Linked DNA regions of Homo sapiens: region 1 is linked to region 2. The links come from fine-mapping of genetic effects on gene expression. Tissue or cell type: whole blood. Region 2 holds a variant in brackets; the other region holds the start of a gene. All regions are shown on one strand. Distances are from middle to middle.

Region 1 (8,108 bases), 150 kb before region 2:
TGGCTCACGCCTGTAATCCCAGCACCTTGGGAGGCCGAGGGGGGAGGATCACGAGTTCAGGAGTTCGAGACCAGCTGGCCAACATGCTGAAACCCCATCTCTAGTAAAAATACAAAAATTAGCCTGGCGTGGTGTTGTGCACTTGTAATTCCAGCTACTCGGGAGGCTGAAGCAGGAGAATCACTTGAACCCGGGAGGCGGAGGTTGCAGTGAACTGAGATGGTGCCACTGCACTCCAGCCTGGGCGACAGAGGGAGACTACGTTTCAAAAAAAAAAAAAAAAAAAGTAGACTAAGAGACAATGGAGACTGGGGAGGGTCAGAGGGTGGGAGGGGATGAAGGATGAGAAATAACTTAATAGGTACAATGTACACTATTCTTGTGATGGCTACACTCAAAGCCCAGACTTCGCCACAATGCAATATATCCATATAACAACACTGCACTTATACTCACTAAATCTATCATTTTAAAAACCCACATTTTACTTATACTGTTTTATCTGACTACAAAAAACTGAAGCAATTCTTGATTCGGGGGGTTATGGTGATTAGTTTTCTTTGGATGCTTACCCTTCACCAGACACCGTGCTAAAGACCTTATACAGAATATTTTACTTAATTTTCCCCAAACTTTTTGTAGTGAATACTGATAATACATTGTACACATGAGGACATTGAGACTTTGTTGACTTAAGGAGCTTATATGGGGTCTCACGGGTCCTGAGGAGAGGAGATCTGAAGTTGGGTGGGTCTCTTTTAGAAGATTTAGCTCCTAATCACCATACTATCACTATTGTAGTTCTCTAATTTTAGCATGAGTCGGAATCCTCCAGAGGCCAACTGAAAGCTCTGATCGCTGATCTCACCCCCCAACAATTTCTGATTCCAGGGCTGCCTGAGAGCTTGCATCTCTAGCAAATTCCCAGGTGATGCTAAAGCTGCTGGCCCAGTGACCACACTTTGAGAGCCCCTATTATACTACATCCTATCTTCTAAAAAATTGCCCTGACTTTGGAAACCTTGAATGAAAATGATGGAATTTGAAAGTGACTGCTGACATTAGACCTACGCACAGATAGCTAACAGCCAGAGTGTTTCTAGAGCCTCTCTTCTGAGAGGATGGTGTCATGAGACAGAGGTAATTGACCTGTTGTAGGTTTTATTCTGGTATTCCCTTGGCTGCCTGACATTTCCGAGAACACAGTCGAACTGCATCGTTTAAAAAAAAAAAGTACCACCACCATTTGCTCGTACTAATAGGGCATTTTTGAAGTTCAGTAGTTTTCCATTCAGCATGATGACAGTTCTTTTTCAAGCTAAGTTCATTTTCTTTTGATTCAGTAAAATCTATTATATTCAGATTCATCGTTACCATCATCTTGAAAAAAAAACCATCAATACTAATACTGATGGCACATAGAGAAGACTTATTGTGAAGAAAGGTTTGCAAATCTTGGACCAAGTCTTGTGTCCTATTAACTAATTCAACAAAAACTCTTGGGCAATTTTATTAACGAAAGAAATCTCATTTAAAAGTTTTCTGATTACAGTCACTGAAAACAACAGGCACTTTGAGGACAGATTTTGTGTTCTTCGTCTTTTGACTGATTGAGTTTCACCTGAATTAAGATTATAAAAGCACATTTGATACCTGAAATCAAGCTGATTTACTTGTCGATAATCTGTTCTGGAGTCTTCTGGGCTAGTTCAGGAGAAAAGCTTTGGTGCCTTACCTTTCCTTTTGGTGCCACTTAATAGCATAGATAACAACCCAGATGTGAAACAGCCAAGAAAATACAGACAATTGACTTACAGATGGATTCAGGAAAAAACTCCATCCTGAAATTTGCTACAGCACTTTTGCTATGAGAAATCTTCATACATTCTAAGGGAAAATGGAGGCTGGGCACAATGGGTCATGTCTGTAACGCTAGCACTTTGGGAGGCTGAGGCTGGAAGATTGCTTGAGCCCAGGCATTTGAAACCAGCCTGGGCGACATAGTGAGACCCCATCTCTACAAAAAAAATAATGATAATAAACTTAGCACCTGTAGTCCCCGTGGCTGAGGTGGGAAGATGGATCACTTCATCCCAGGAGTTCAAGGCAGCTGTGAGCTATGATTGAGTCACTGCTCTCCAGCCTGGGCAACAGACCTTGTCTCAAAAATAAATAAAGGAAGACAGAGACTGGTGGTAGGCGAGACTCCTTGAGCTCCCTTTTCCAAATGTTTCCAACAATCAGCATCAATTCCCGAGGGAAAACTTTAATAAATAAATAAATAAGATTAATTATCTAGTGACTTCATGAGTGGTGGAACAGTTTCCTTTGGTTTTGAGGGGAGAATAAACTACCCATGCAGGTTGGTGCTTGCAGGTGAGGTTAGACATGTCCAGAGGCTGAATTTTCCAGAACTAAACCACCGATTCTCTTATGGGCTTCTGTTTCCCAGCACTAGTAACGGCAAGCTATTTACAAGGGACCAAGAACTCTGTTTTTCTCCCTGACTGCTGCATTGGTATTAGCAGCATCTTGGTGTGAGGAAACCTGCCTTCCTGCTGGCAACCACAGGAGGCTGTCATTTTCTCTGAGACCCTCAAGTTAGGAGCAAAGGCAGGTTCTAGGGCCGCCTGTTGCTTTGAGACTGTTGCCTTCATCTCCTGCTTCCAGCAGAACCAAGGAAACATTCGTGGCTATTCCCCCAGGAGTAGGGTCCAAAGGGATGCCTTGGAGATTTTTTTTTTTCTCTCTCTCTCTTCTGCATCTGTGGCTGCCCAGAGGTGTTTTATCAGTGTGAACAGAGCAAGATGAGTAAGGTGTTCCCCGAGGCAGATTAGGAGACCACTCGTCCGGTGTGGGGGGTGTGTGTCTGTGTGTGTGTGTGTTCGCGCGCGCGCAAGACGTGGAAGCCAAGTGTGCTGAAATGCAGCTCCCCTCTCTGCCTGCAAAGAGTTGCTCCGCTTCCGTCCCTGCCCCGCGCCCTGGGGAAGCGCCAGGGGGAGTCCTCGCCGGCCAGGGCTTCCCGTGCCCCGGGAGCATCGAGGGCCAGCTTGGTGGAGCTTAGCACAGCTTGCTCGGCGCTGCGAGCGGGCGGGGGTGGACACTGGGCTTCTGTGTGCCAGTCGCAGCCGTTGGCTGGCGGGCACCCAATCCCAGGGCATGCCGCCGGAGCCTGGCCAGGACGCACGGTGAAAGACGAGTTTGGTGGCAGGCTTGACCCCCCGGCTGCCAGCAGAAGCCGGCGTCGGGAGCCCAGGCGGGCAGGCCGCTGGGGTCGGGGCTGCACGTACGAGAGCCGGGACGCCCGGGTTCAGAGCGAAGGAGGAGGCATGGCTTCGGTGTTCATGTGTGGCGTGGAGGACCTGCTGTTCAGCGGCAGCCGCTTCGTATGGAACTTGACCGTGTCCACGCTGCGGAGATGGTACACGGAGAGGCTGCGGGCTTGCCACCAGGTGCTGCGGACGTGGTGCGGGCTGCAGGACGTGTACCAGGTGAGCTGGAGCGCGCGGCACCCGAGGGCCCCAGCAGGATGCCGGGCACTCGTGGGAAGCAGGCTCCACCTGTATGATTTTATTCCCCCCAGCTCTTCTTAAACTCCTAGCAGACTGCTTGGCCCTTGGGTCAAACGCTCAGCAGCTCTAGGTAATTATTGCTTGACAGAGCTTGTGAATTTTTCAAATCGGGCATGGGGGGCACTTGCGAGATAGTCCCAGCGTTTGCAGACATCTGTTACAGAGCAATGGTGTACTGGCGGGCGCTTGACTAGGGAGGCTGTTGCTTTGCAACAGAGGGTCTTCAGAAAGCCACTTAGACATTCAAATGAGTCCTTCTTTTTAATTTCATTGGGGGTGGGAGTGGCTGCTTCTGAAGCAACGGTTTCACACCAATTTGCTGGCAGAGGGGGCCTTGGTGGATTTTTATCCTTCCGTTGGATTTTCAGTTTTCCATCAGGCAGCCCCAACTTGTAAGGCAGAGCCAGGAAAAGCTGATTCTGTGTCTACTGGCTTTTGGAAGGAAGGACAGCAAATTGTGAACACTTTGCAGGAGGATGACAGGCTGGGGAAGGGAGGGGTGGCCCGGCTACACGTTGGAATGCTCATGTTAGGATTTACTCCCTGTCACACAACACAGCCCCTTTATTTCTCTGCTCGGTCCCATCCTGCAGGCAAAAAATGCAGCAACTTTGCTCAACTAGGAGACCATTCATCCTCTCTGGTACTGCAGTTTGCCTGGATTTCTTTTTTTTTTTTTAGACAGTAATTTATGAATTTAAAAGTTCTGTGCTTTGGTTGTTAATATATTTGAGATTTTTAAAAATCTGCATTGTTTAGAAATATACTTGGTGTCTACTGTGGAAAGATAATATCATATTTTCTTTCCTGTGATGTGGAATAGCTTTGTTGCAGTTCCTGGATTTCCCCCCATTTGACCCTGTTCCTAATATGTCTAGAATTTATGTCTTATTATATTGTGTCTCATACATGATCAAGCACTTGATTTTGACAAACCATAATCTTCCATCAATCAGGCAAAATGAAAAGGCCAGCACCTAAGGTTAGCCTGTGGAAGTCTAAAGAGTCAGCGTCCCCTTGTCACCCTTGTTAAAATATGAGGAACATTTGAACTTGTGCTTTCACTGCTTCTGCTTTGTATAACATATCTGTGATATCTTGCATTTTGAAATGGAATCTGAAAGGCAGGTTGGGAACCAGGGCAGCATGTGGGAGTTTGAGAGTATTAGGGAATTGTGGATATATCCCATCTGGCCACATTACATAGCTCTCTGGCTTTTTGGAGCCAGAAGTGTGTCTGTCTTTCAAGCCTTTTTTTTCCTCTCTTGGGAAATCCCTGTTCAGTTTGGTCTGTAGAATAAGTGCCCCTTATGTAATTTTGTTTTTCCTTTTTAGTGTTTGAGAAACTTTCAAAAAGGGAACGCAAATATTGTAGCCAACCAGAGTGACTCTGTGCCTCACTCCCCAAGGATTCAGAGGATTTATGGCTTATCTGTAATACTGTTACTGACCAATTCAAAAATAAAGATTCCAGAAACCTGAGACCTTATGGATTCTTTATAAGGTTGACTGATAATTTTTATGCAGAATAGCAATTTGAGACACTGAGCTACTAAAATATATGTATTTTTTTCTTTTCTCTAAAATGGATGGTGACTGAGCCAATACCATATCATAATTGATAAGAACATCTAAAATAATGGTGGTAGTCAGGCAGTGTGCTGTGTGTCTATAATCCCAGCTACTCAGAAGGCTGAGGCAGGAAGATCCCTTGAGCCCAGGAGTTTGAGGCCAGCCCGGGCAACATAGTGAGACCCATCTCTTAAAAAAATAAAAAATAAAAAAAAAATAAGTCCCCACTCCTTATTTTTAACTTTAATCAATTGTACATTTCAAAATAACTAGAAGAGAATAATTTGAATGTTTCTAGCACGAAGAAAAGATAACGGTTGGGCACCATGGCTCATGCCTGTAATCCCAACATTTTGGGAGGCTGAAGTGAGAGGATCACTTGAGCCCAGGAGTTCAAGACCAGTCTGAGCAACATAGTGAGACCCCATCTCTACAAAAAATTTAAAAATCAGCCAGGTATAGCGTCATGAACCTGTGGTTCTCTCTGCTCAAGACGTTGAGGCAGGAGGATCACTTGAGCCCAGGAGTTCAATGCTGCAGTGAGCCATAATTGTCCCACTGCACTTCAGCCTAAGTGACAGAGGGAGACCTCCTCTAAAAAATTAATTAATTAAAATATTTAAAGCATTGGCTATCCCAATAACCCTGCTTTGATTATATGAATGTGTCACATTATCACATGTACCCCCGAACTATGTACATCTAATATGTATCAATGAAAATAAATAACAAAGGCTTTTATGAATACAGAATCAGAAGAAAATGATCTCTAAGTTTAATATTTCCTGTGCTTTTGCAAAAATAAGATTTTCAAAAATATTTTCAGCCTTTGAATATTCTTAATTGTGCAACATAATCCTTTGCAAAGGAAGATCATTTTTTAATGCTTTTCAAATATTAAGTGAAAAAGTAGTGACTTAATTGTGTAGAACTAAAAGACAGTAACTGCAAGTTAAATAGACAAGGGAGTTAATCCAGTCTTTGCCTATGTATGACCGTGGGTAAGTTAATCTTACTATACTTCAGCTTCATCATTTATAAAATGAGAAATTAATAGTACTAATCACAGAGATTGATAAAAGAATTAATTGACGTGAGATATTTAGCACGCTGCCTGGAGTTTAGAAAGCATCCAATAAATGTTATCTTTTCCATGAGTTAGGATTTTTTTTATTATAATAGAAAACCCAATTCAAACTTGCCTACAGAGTAAAAAGAAATGACTTTTGTCACAGCTGAAAAGTCTAGCAGTAGAATGAACTTTAGGTATTGTTTGATCAGGGTACCATGCTTTCAGACCTGGTCTTGCTGATGTGTTGGCTTTATCTTCAGCTGGTTTCTTCCCTCACAATAGCAGATAATCACAGCAGTTTCAGGCCTTATATCCACACATCCAGAAAGAAAGAATTTCTCATATCCTCCAACTATCAAAAAAAAAAAAAAAAAAGTCCCAGTTTACATGCTGGAACTCCAATTTAGGGTCTGTACCCACTCCTGATGCCATGCACTGATTGGCACAGAGTATGGGATGACAATTTATGCATTCTCAATGAGAGTGAAATGGCCCAAAGGAGGCAAAAATTGTTTTGGAGGAGGGGGGTGGGAAAAAAATTCACTACTTTTATTTATAAAGCACGAATATACATGCAATATATAAACAGAAATACAGCATATCTGTGACATTAAAATGGGAGGGATTGGGCTGGGTGCAGTGGCTCACACCTCTAATCCCAGCACTTTGGGAGGCCAAGGTGAGCAGATCACTTGAGGTCAGGAGTTCAAGACCAGCGTGGCCAACATGGCAAGACCCCGTCTCTACTAAAAATACAAAAAGTAGCTGAGTGTGGTGATTCATGCCTGTAATCCCAGCACTTTGGGAGGCTGAGGCGAGTGGATCACTTGAGCTTACGAGTTCGAGACCAGCCTGGCCAACATGGCAAAACGCCATCTCTACTAAAAATACAAAAATTAGCCAGGCATGGTGGCACATGCCTGTAATCCTAGCTACTCGGGAGGCTGAGGCATGAGAATCACTTAAACCTGGGAGATGGAGTTTGCAGTAAGCCATGATCACACCACTGCACTCCAACCTGGGCAACAGAGTGAGACTCTGTCTCAAAATAAATAAATAAAATGAAATAAAATAGGAGGGGTGACAAACAAACAAAAATCTAAAAAGGCTCCTTAAGCAGATAACAATGAATTAAAAGGTTAAGAAACACTGGATTGCATTGATTTGCTGAGGCTAGAGGGGAAGGGACCCATTTCTGAACCTAGGATTGAGGTTGGCCCTACTCAGACCACAGAGCTGCCAGGGAGGAAAGGCAAAATGTTTGGCTGAAATGCAACCAACAATGTTCACTGCATCATTAGAATATCAAATCTAGTGCTCTTTACATAAAAATATTAGCTATTTTTCAAGATAAGTACAAAGATTAATGCTCAAATACCTTTGTATGTATTTTGCCACAGGAATTTGAGTTAAGGGGCTTATCATAAGATTACCCCTTTGCTATCCCATAATTGTGAATTCTAAATCAGAGAGGGGATTGTTCCACTGCACTGCTCAGCTTTCAGGCATATGGACTAGAAACACACACACCAGGGAGTTACATATTTTACTGAACCAAATTTTAGATGATCTTGTTGATAAAAAGGTGTCATTTTTCTTGCTTCTAGTCTGAATAGTCTTGTTTGTAAGGAAAGCCAAAGCTTCATCACTCTAGAGAGAAATAGGGTGGGAAGGGAGGTATCCATTACATGAAATACCTGTCAGTCTCCTGGGGGTGTTCTTTTTATTCATATACTATAAGTGAAACAAGATCTCCCACCTATTCATAAGGTATTTGCCAACAACATTATTGTCAGGCTAGCAAAGCTAGGAAGGCATAATTTCTTTGGAATTGAACACTTCTTCCATTTCTAGATATTGGAGAAGCAAGTGACTTAATTTGCCAACAAACC
Region 2 (8,108 bases):
TTGGCTAAGTTTTCAATCTGCTCATGAGCGCTATGAATCTCCCAGAAGGGGACACATAAGCAGCATTTTCCACTCTTATTTCAGCCTCTTGCTGGACCACACACTCTACTCTATGAACCATAGAATCAGAGTAGGAGTCAGGCTTCTGCATTTCACAGCTTAAGTATTTTGCATTTCAAAACCCCTTGCATTTCACAGCTTAAAAAAACCTGATGCAACTAAATGAACACAAAAACCCTAAGTCCCACCTTAATACATCTTTAGACAGTTACTAACACCACATAGGATCAGTCCTATACAGGAAGTAACTCTCTTGACCCATTTGAGTTCTCAGTTTCTTTCTCCACTGGAGTGGACCAGGCCGTTACACCCATCATAGCTACTTGGTCCTGAAATGAAACTCAGCATACTTGGCCTCTTCAGGTAGCGGCTGGCTGAGACACAGGCATGCGTGGCATTCGGTAGGAATAGAAAGTAGCATGACATGAACTACTTCCACTTCTCAAAGTGCAAACCATCCAGAGTCTACAGGAGCTGTGAGACGACATTGTTGAGGGAGAATTCTACATTCCCCCGCTGATAAGCATTTCCAGGCCTTTTGGTTTGTTTCTGGAAACACACTAAGTGATAACATAACACATAACAATACAGTCTTCTTATCTGTGTTCAGATGGCTAATGCGGTTAATCCATTTTTTTGTGTGATCAGGAAAGACACATTGAATCACACATACAGGAAGAAGGATTAAAGAGTTGGGGCTTCAAGTTGACCATAAATAATTTTTCACTTGTCTAGTAGGAAGTTTCCCAGAAGAGAAACACATTTCTTTGACTTTCCATTCTTTTGTAGGAAAACATTATCTGCATTGATTGTTTTTCTTTTACGTGTTCTTTTTTTTTTTTTTTTTTTTTTTTGAGACAGAGTCTTGCTCTGTCGTCCAGGCTGGAGTGTGCAGTGGCGCTATCTTGGCTCACTGCAACCTCCGCCTCCCGGGTTCAAGCAATTCTCCTGCCTCAGCCTCCCAAGTAGCTGGGACTACAGGCACATGCCACCACGCCCGACTAATTTTTTGTATTTTTAGTAGAGATGGGTTTTCACCATGTTAGCCAGAATGGTCTCGATCTTCTGACCTTGGGTTCCACCCTCCTCGGCCTCCCAAAATTACAGGCATGAGCCATCATGCCTGGCCTATGTATCCTTTTTCTAACTCTAGATTTAAGAATAAATTTTTTTAAATTGTAGTAAAATATACATAAAATTTATCATCTCAACCATTTTTAAGAATAGAGTTTGGTAGTGTTAAGTAATGTTTATGTTGGGTGTGTGTGTGTGTGTGTGTGTTTGAGACAGAGTCTTGCTCTGTCGCCCAGGCTGGAGTGCAAGTGGCATGATTTCGGCTCACTGCAACCTCCGCCTCTTGGGTTCAAGCGATTCTCCTGCCTCAGCCTCCTGAATAGCTGGGATTACAGGCACGCACCACCACACCTGGCTAATTTTTTGTATTTTTAGTAGAGACAAGGTTTCACCATGTTGGCCAGGCTGGTCTCGAACTCTTGAGGCAATCCACCCGCCTCAGCTTCCCAAAGTACTGGGATTACAGGCGTGAGCCACCACGCCTGGACGTGTTTATGTTGTACGGCCAATCTCCAGAACTTTTTCATCTTGGAAAAACAGAAACTCTGCACCCATTAAACAGCTCCCTATTCACTCCTCCCGCAGTCCATGGCCACCACCATTCTACTTTCTGTCTCTATGAATTTAACAGGAGAGAAATAAAATATTTTTATTTTAAATATTTGTAGATTTTCATGTTAACCTGCTTCCCAACCTAAGTCATTCTTATGGATGATATTTCTTCTACCCATTATTAAGAGAGTTAAAGGTTCAAAGTAGACATGATCGGAGTCCTCAGGGAGCTGGCTGACGTTTAGAAAAATCTTTCATCACATTTTCATTCTCATTAGAAATTCCTTAGACCTAAAAACAAATAGCTTGACAGTTGATCCCCATCAAGCATGCAGATGGGCAGAGTAATTGTCCCCTGTTACAAGTTAGGCCACAGACAAAAATGTAATGACAAAGGAATTCTAGCTGAGAGGACACTGCACTTCCCAGAACACAAGCAGGTTTCCTGCTACAGGATGCATCTTTGGTAGAATGCTGAGAAAATAAAAGGCTGACACCAATCCTGTGGATCAGTCATGATGTTGGAAAAGTGAGTTTCTAGGCTGAGCTTCCACTGGTTGCCAATAGACTCTGTCAAACCAAGCCCCAAACTGCTCACAACTCGGAACTTGGCAAGTTACTTTCAAAGTTCTTTTCCCAGGCAGTTTATTATAAGCCCTTAGAGTTGCCAGATTTAGCAAATAAAAATATAGGACGCCCAGTTAAATTGGAATTTCAGATGAACAACGAGCAATTTTTTAGTATAAGTATGTCCAATATATTAAATCTGCCAACTCTAACCCAGATCACCCCTTTAGGATTCTTCTCAATAGTAATAATCGACCACCAGCCTGGGCAGAGAGTGGTAGGAATAAAGTGTTTGGTAAAATCTTTGGTTTATTATGCTACCTTCAGAAAGGAAGGAACATTTTTGTTGTTGTTGTTTTGAGGCAGGATTTTTCTCTGTTATCCTGGCTGGAGTGCAGTGGCATGATCATGGATCACTGCAGATCACGTGCCCCCTGGGCATAAGTGACCTTCCCATCTCAGCCTCCCGAGTAGCTGGGACTACAGGTGTGTACCCCACGTCTGATTAATTTTTGTATTTTCCATAGAGATGAGATTTCACTGTGTTGCCTAGGCTGATCTCAAACTCCTGGGCTCAAGCAGTTTGCCCACCTCAGTCTCCCAAAGTGCCTGGATTACAGGCGTGAGCTACCACACCTGGCCAGGAAGGAACACATTTATTGAACATAGGCAAGTGCCTTCATTGCATTCTATTGTAATATACCCAAGAATCCTATGCAACAGGTCACTATTTGTATTTTTATAATATGGAAATGCAGGCTCACAAAGGTTAGTTTATCTAAGACCACAAAACTCCTAGGAACAGAGAGACCTGGGACTGAATGCAGTTCTAAAGGCCAAACCGTATTACTGCAAATCATAGGCCTAGAGCTGATTGGTTGGTTGGTATTTTTGATTTTTTCCTAGGTATGTACTGGCTGCCTGTGTACTAGCTCTAGTAAAATGATGGGCAGCTAGGTGATCTTTCTAAATCTCAGTTTCCTTATCTGTAAATTAGAGCACCAACATCTTGGGTGCCATGAAGACTAAATGAGTTTGTGTAAGTAAAATGCATCCTAGGCACTTGTCACACATAGCAAGTGCCTAGGATGGCCACCTTAAGAGCCCAAAGTGGATGGGCGCTGTGGCTCACGCCTGTAATCCTGGCACTTTAGGAGGCCAACGCCGGCCGATTGCCTGAGCTCAGGAGTTTGAGGCCAACCTGGGCAACATGGTGAAACCCTGTCTCTAGTAAAAATACAAAAAATGAGCCGAGCATGGTGGTGCGTGCCTGTAATCCCAGCTACTTAGGAGGCTGAGGCAGGAGAATCACTTGAACCCAGGAGGCAGAGGTTGCAGTCAGCCGAGATCGCGCCACTGCACTCTAGCCTGGATGACAGAGCGAGACTCTGTCTCAGTAAATGAGTACATAAATAAAAGCCCAAAGAATATCTTTTATCATCCTATGAAAGAGAAGCTGAGAGGTCTGAGGAAGCTGGGGACCAGAGATGGTGTAGAAATGCATGCTCGCACCTGAACCCCCATGAAGGCGCTAGAAATGCATGAAGCCTAGAAATGCATGCTCACACCTAAACCCCCATGAAGGCCTTCTTTGCATGCTCACACCTGTAGCCCTGTGAAGGAGCTTCTTAGGATGAAGGATGGGCCAACAACTTCCCACCTCTCACAGAAACAGTGGGAGGCATCCCTAGATTTGGCCAGAGGCCAGGAGAAAGGCTTATATAATTCTTTCAGTTCTCACTTTTCACTCTGTAAATAGCTGCAACCTGACTTGGTTTAAGGTCTGATCAAGAAAGGTTTAAATCAAGAAAGGTTTAAAGGTAGGGAGGAAATTCCAAAAATGAAAGACCCTGTGGCTTAGGAGGGGAGGAGAGCAAGGGCTGGCACAGCCAGCTGGGTGTTTCCTTTCCCGGCCCCTCCCTCCTCTTCCGTTCCTCCCTAGCTTTCCAATTCTCTCCTCTTCCTCCTCTTGTGCTCCGGCCTGCAGTTGTCCAGAGAACAAACCTCTGGTCCTTTAGATCTGTTGCCACCTACTGTGGGAACTTTGGTAAGTTTTCAAACTTCAGTGGGTCTTGTTTCTCTCATCTGTGCATTTAGGGGTTGGACCAAATGAATTCACCTCGCTTACCCGGCTAGGTGGAGCTGCTCTCTTTTAAGTTTAGTCTGGGTGGGTAGAAAGTGAAGAGGGCTCTTTCTTTTAGCTGTTATGCAGTTAGCTCAGTCTGTAATCAGTTTTTCGGAACTAA[C/T]TTGCAATAATCAGGAGTGGCATTAGGCATTGAGTGAACTTGAGCTCTAGCTTTCTGCTTTTGCATATGATTGACTGTGAATGAAAGTGTCAGCTTGTTTCTTCTTTTCTTCATCCCATCCCAGGCCTTAGTATACCCTAACAGTAACAGAGATAACTCATCCAGGGTAGAGATCTTACTCTGAGCTTTTTGAATCAGTATAAAAAGTGGGGCTTCAGGAATACCTTGTGTGGTTTAAGGAGCTTTAATTGATATATTGGACTTCTCACCTGTAGCAGTTTGCAACTCCCTGTTTTAAGGTTCTGCCGAAAATGACTGGAGTCTGGTTTTGCAGCTCATGTAAAAGTGTTTTTCAAAAACCAAATTTGGGGCCGGGCACGGTGGCTCATGCATGTAATCCCAGCACTTTGGGAGGCCAAGGCGGGCGGATCATTTGAGGTCAGGAGTTCCAGACCAGCCTGGCCAACATGGTGAAACTCCATCTCTACTAAACATATAAAAATTACCCGGGCATCGTGGCAGGTGCCTATAGTCCCAGCTACTCAGGAGGCTGAGGCAGGAGGATCTGTTGAACCCAGGAGGCGGAGCTTGCAGTGAGCTGAGATTGTGCCACTGCACTCCAGCCTGGGCAACAGAGCGAGACTCCATCTCGGAAAAAAAAAAAAAAAACCAAAACAATAACAACAACAATAAAACCCTAAATTTGGTGTCCTCACTACTAAGGGACAACTAGGCTATGGTTTTTGTTTGGTTTGTTCTGGTTTGGTGTGGTTCAAGAAACACTGCTAACACATTAAGTCTTGTTATCTATGTTCAGATCCTTGATGTGGTTAATCCAGTTTGATCTAGTTTAAAAACGCAGACTGTCATCACCTAAGCAATACATATTTTGGTGGAATTAATCAGTGGCTACCATAATGATAAATGCTGAAGCCTCAAAGTTAAAATCTTTCCTCTGCTCCTTCCCTATTTCCTGTCCCCTCTTCCTAGAATCCTGGAGGAGTAAGGCAAAGTTGTTAAAGCACAGGTTTGGAGTCGTATTTGCTTTGTGAGTTTAAATTGCTTAATCTCCCTTAACTCTGTTTTCATATCCATGAAATAGGGACACTGATGTTAATAGCATAATATGCCTGTAGAGAAAGGGGTTAGCCCACTCTCTGCCACCTGGTAATACCCAGTGAAAGAGCTGTTGTCCCTTAGAAGTATTTCTTTTTTTTTTTCCTTTCTTTTTTTTAATTTGATATGGAGTCTCACTCTGTTGTCCAGGCTGGAGTACAGTGGCATGGTCTGGGCTCACTGCAACCTCCGCCTCCCAGGCTCAAGCGATTCTTCTGCGTCAGCCTCCTGAGTAGCTAGGATTACAGGCACCCACCACCACACCCAGCTGATTTTTGTATTTTTAGTAGAGACAGGGTTTCACCTCAAAGCCAGGCTGGTCTTGAACTCTTGACCTCAGGTGATCCACCCACCTCTGCCTCCCAAAGTGCTGGGATTACAGGCATGAGTCACTGCGCCTGGCCCTTTAGAAGTATTTCTTTTGGGGGATTAGATGACAGCACTCATGTTTTGTCACTGCTAGGTCAGGTCACTTGCTAGAGTCTCCTAAAACAAACCTGAGCTGTCCACCCAAAAGCTTTGCTCAGGCTCCCTGACCATCTCTACAATTTAAGGAGTTGATTACAGTTTCTTTCTTGAAAATATTATTATTATTATTATTATTATTATTATTATTATTATTATTATTATTTGAGACAGGGTCTCGCTCTGTCACCCAGGCTGGAGTGCAGTGGCATGAGATTGGCTCACTGTAAACTCCGCCTCCTGGGTTCAAGCAATTCTCCTGCCTCAGCCTCCTGAGTAGCTGGGACTACAGGCACACACCACCACACCCGGCTAATTTTTTGTATTTTTAGTAGAGGTGGGGTTCCACCATGTTGGCCAGGCTGGTCTGGAACTCTTGATCTCAAGTGATCCGCCCGCCTCAGCCTCCCAAAGTGCTGGGATTACAGGCATGAGCCACCACACCTAGCCAAAATCTCTGTTTTATGTTGTGTTTATCCTATTGCAGTGGTTCTTAAGCCCTTAGTTAAAAGCAGATTGCTGAGCCCCACCCTCAGCCTTTCTGATCCAGTAGGTCTGGGGTGGAGCCTGAGATTTGCCTTTCCAGAAAGTCATCCGATAATGTTGATGCTGCTGGCCAGGGTACGAGGGTACAATGATAATCACTGTTTTCTTTTGTTTGTCACCTTTAATATTGCTTTACCTAGGAATCAGTAGAGAGAAACTTACTATTAGAAATTTCTAGTTGTTAAGTCCAGCAGATAATACACTGAATTCATCATTGAAGGCCAGGTTCTACAAATAACTGAAAGAAACATGATATTCTTTTTCAATAAAGGGCAATTTGAAGGCAAGCTAGCCAGTGAAAAGCTCTTAAACTGCTAATCACCCAGGTCTTGGTCAGTGCCAGTAGATTAGTTGAGGAAATTGGTGTTTGTTAATAGTAACCAAGATCCTTTTTAATAATTACTTGTTTATGCAATCTGTCATCCTTCAATAGAAGATCCAGCTCAAATGGTTTGATTGATAGTTAAGTTGGCACCTGTTACACCTATGTAACAGACATTTAATACACTTTTTTTTTTTTTTTTTTGAGACAGGGTCTCACTCTGTCACCCAGGCTGGAGGGCAGTGGCATGATCTCAGCTCACTGCAGCCTCCACCTCCCAGTGCAAGCAATTCTCCTGCCTCAGCCTCCTGAGTAACTGGGACTACACGCACGCGCCACCAGGCCCAGCTAATTTTTGTATTTTAAGTAGAGACGGAGTTTCACCATTTGGCCAGGCTGGTCTGGAACTCCTGACCTCAAGTGATCTGCTAGCCCCAGCCTCCCTAAATGTTGGGATTACAGACATGAGCTACTACGCCTGGCCTAAATAAACTTTTGTAGCTGCTATGATCACTAATCCTGTCCCATTTCTTCAGTGTAGTTCAGAACCTTGATGGGTCATCACAGGTTTCTAGTAAGCACAGACAAAGAAATGACTTCTCATCAAGGCCTATACAAGGCAACACTAGAAGACTGGCAAATGTTTCCAATTAGCTCCATTCCTAATAACAGTAAATCTTTGGTTTGCCTGGGACACAGTACTAAATAGAGTTCTTGGCTGTGATGACTTGCCCAAATCCTGGGAGGCCCCTGTCATGATCTTTTAATTTCTCATGTTATGTAAGCTGTATGGTACATATACACTTAATAACAGGCTTTAGACTTTACTGAGTGTTCAAATAGGCACTTAACTATGGCATTTTTACATCCACATACACATTTTCTGAAATAAGGATTTTGAGTTACAATTATGTGTAGGTGAAAAAAGAACTCCAGACCCAAGTTAATCTTTTTTTTTTTTTTTTTGAGACAGGGTCTCACTCTGTCACCCAGGCTGGAGTGCAGTAGGCGATCGTGGCTCATTGCAGCCTCGAACTCCCGGCCTCAGGTGATTCTCCCAACTCATCCTTCCAAGTACCTGGGACTACAGGCGTGTGCCACCCCACCCAACTAATTTTTCTGTATTGTTCATAGAGACAAGGTTTCACCATGTTGGCCAG

Evidence for each region. PIP is the estimated chance that this variant, and not a neighbour inherited with it, causes the effect.
Region 1: it holds the start of FRMD4B, and the variant in region 2 is fine-mapped to the expression of FRMD4B in whole blood (TOPMed, PIP above 0.99).

The regions. Positions count from the first base shown.
Region 1 is chr3:69,381,211-69,389,318 of GRCh38, reverse strand. It overlaps FRMD4B (FERM domain containing 4B), which reads left to right and starts at 3,231. Exons shown (of 23, transcript NM_015123.3): 1 at 3,231-3,491. The coding sequence starts at 3,330. RefSeq lists an enhancer at 3,154-3,764.
Region 2 is chr3:69,233,289-69,241,396 of GRCh38, reverse strand. The region is part of intron 7 of FRMD4B (FERM domain containing 4B); the gene reads left to right. Among named protein-coding and RNA genes, the nearest start is that of LMOD3, 110 kb to the right of the region's middle. RefSeq lists enhancers at 5,370-5,869, 5,870-6,371. The variant C/T (reference allele first, on the strand shown) is at 4,500.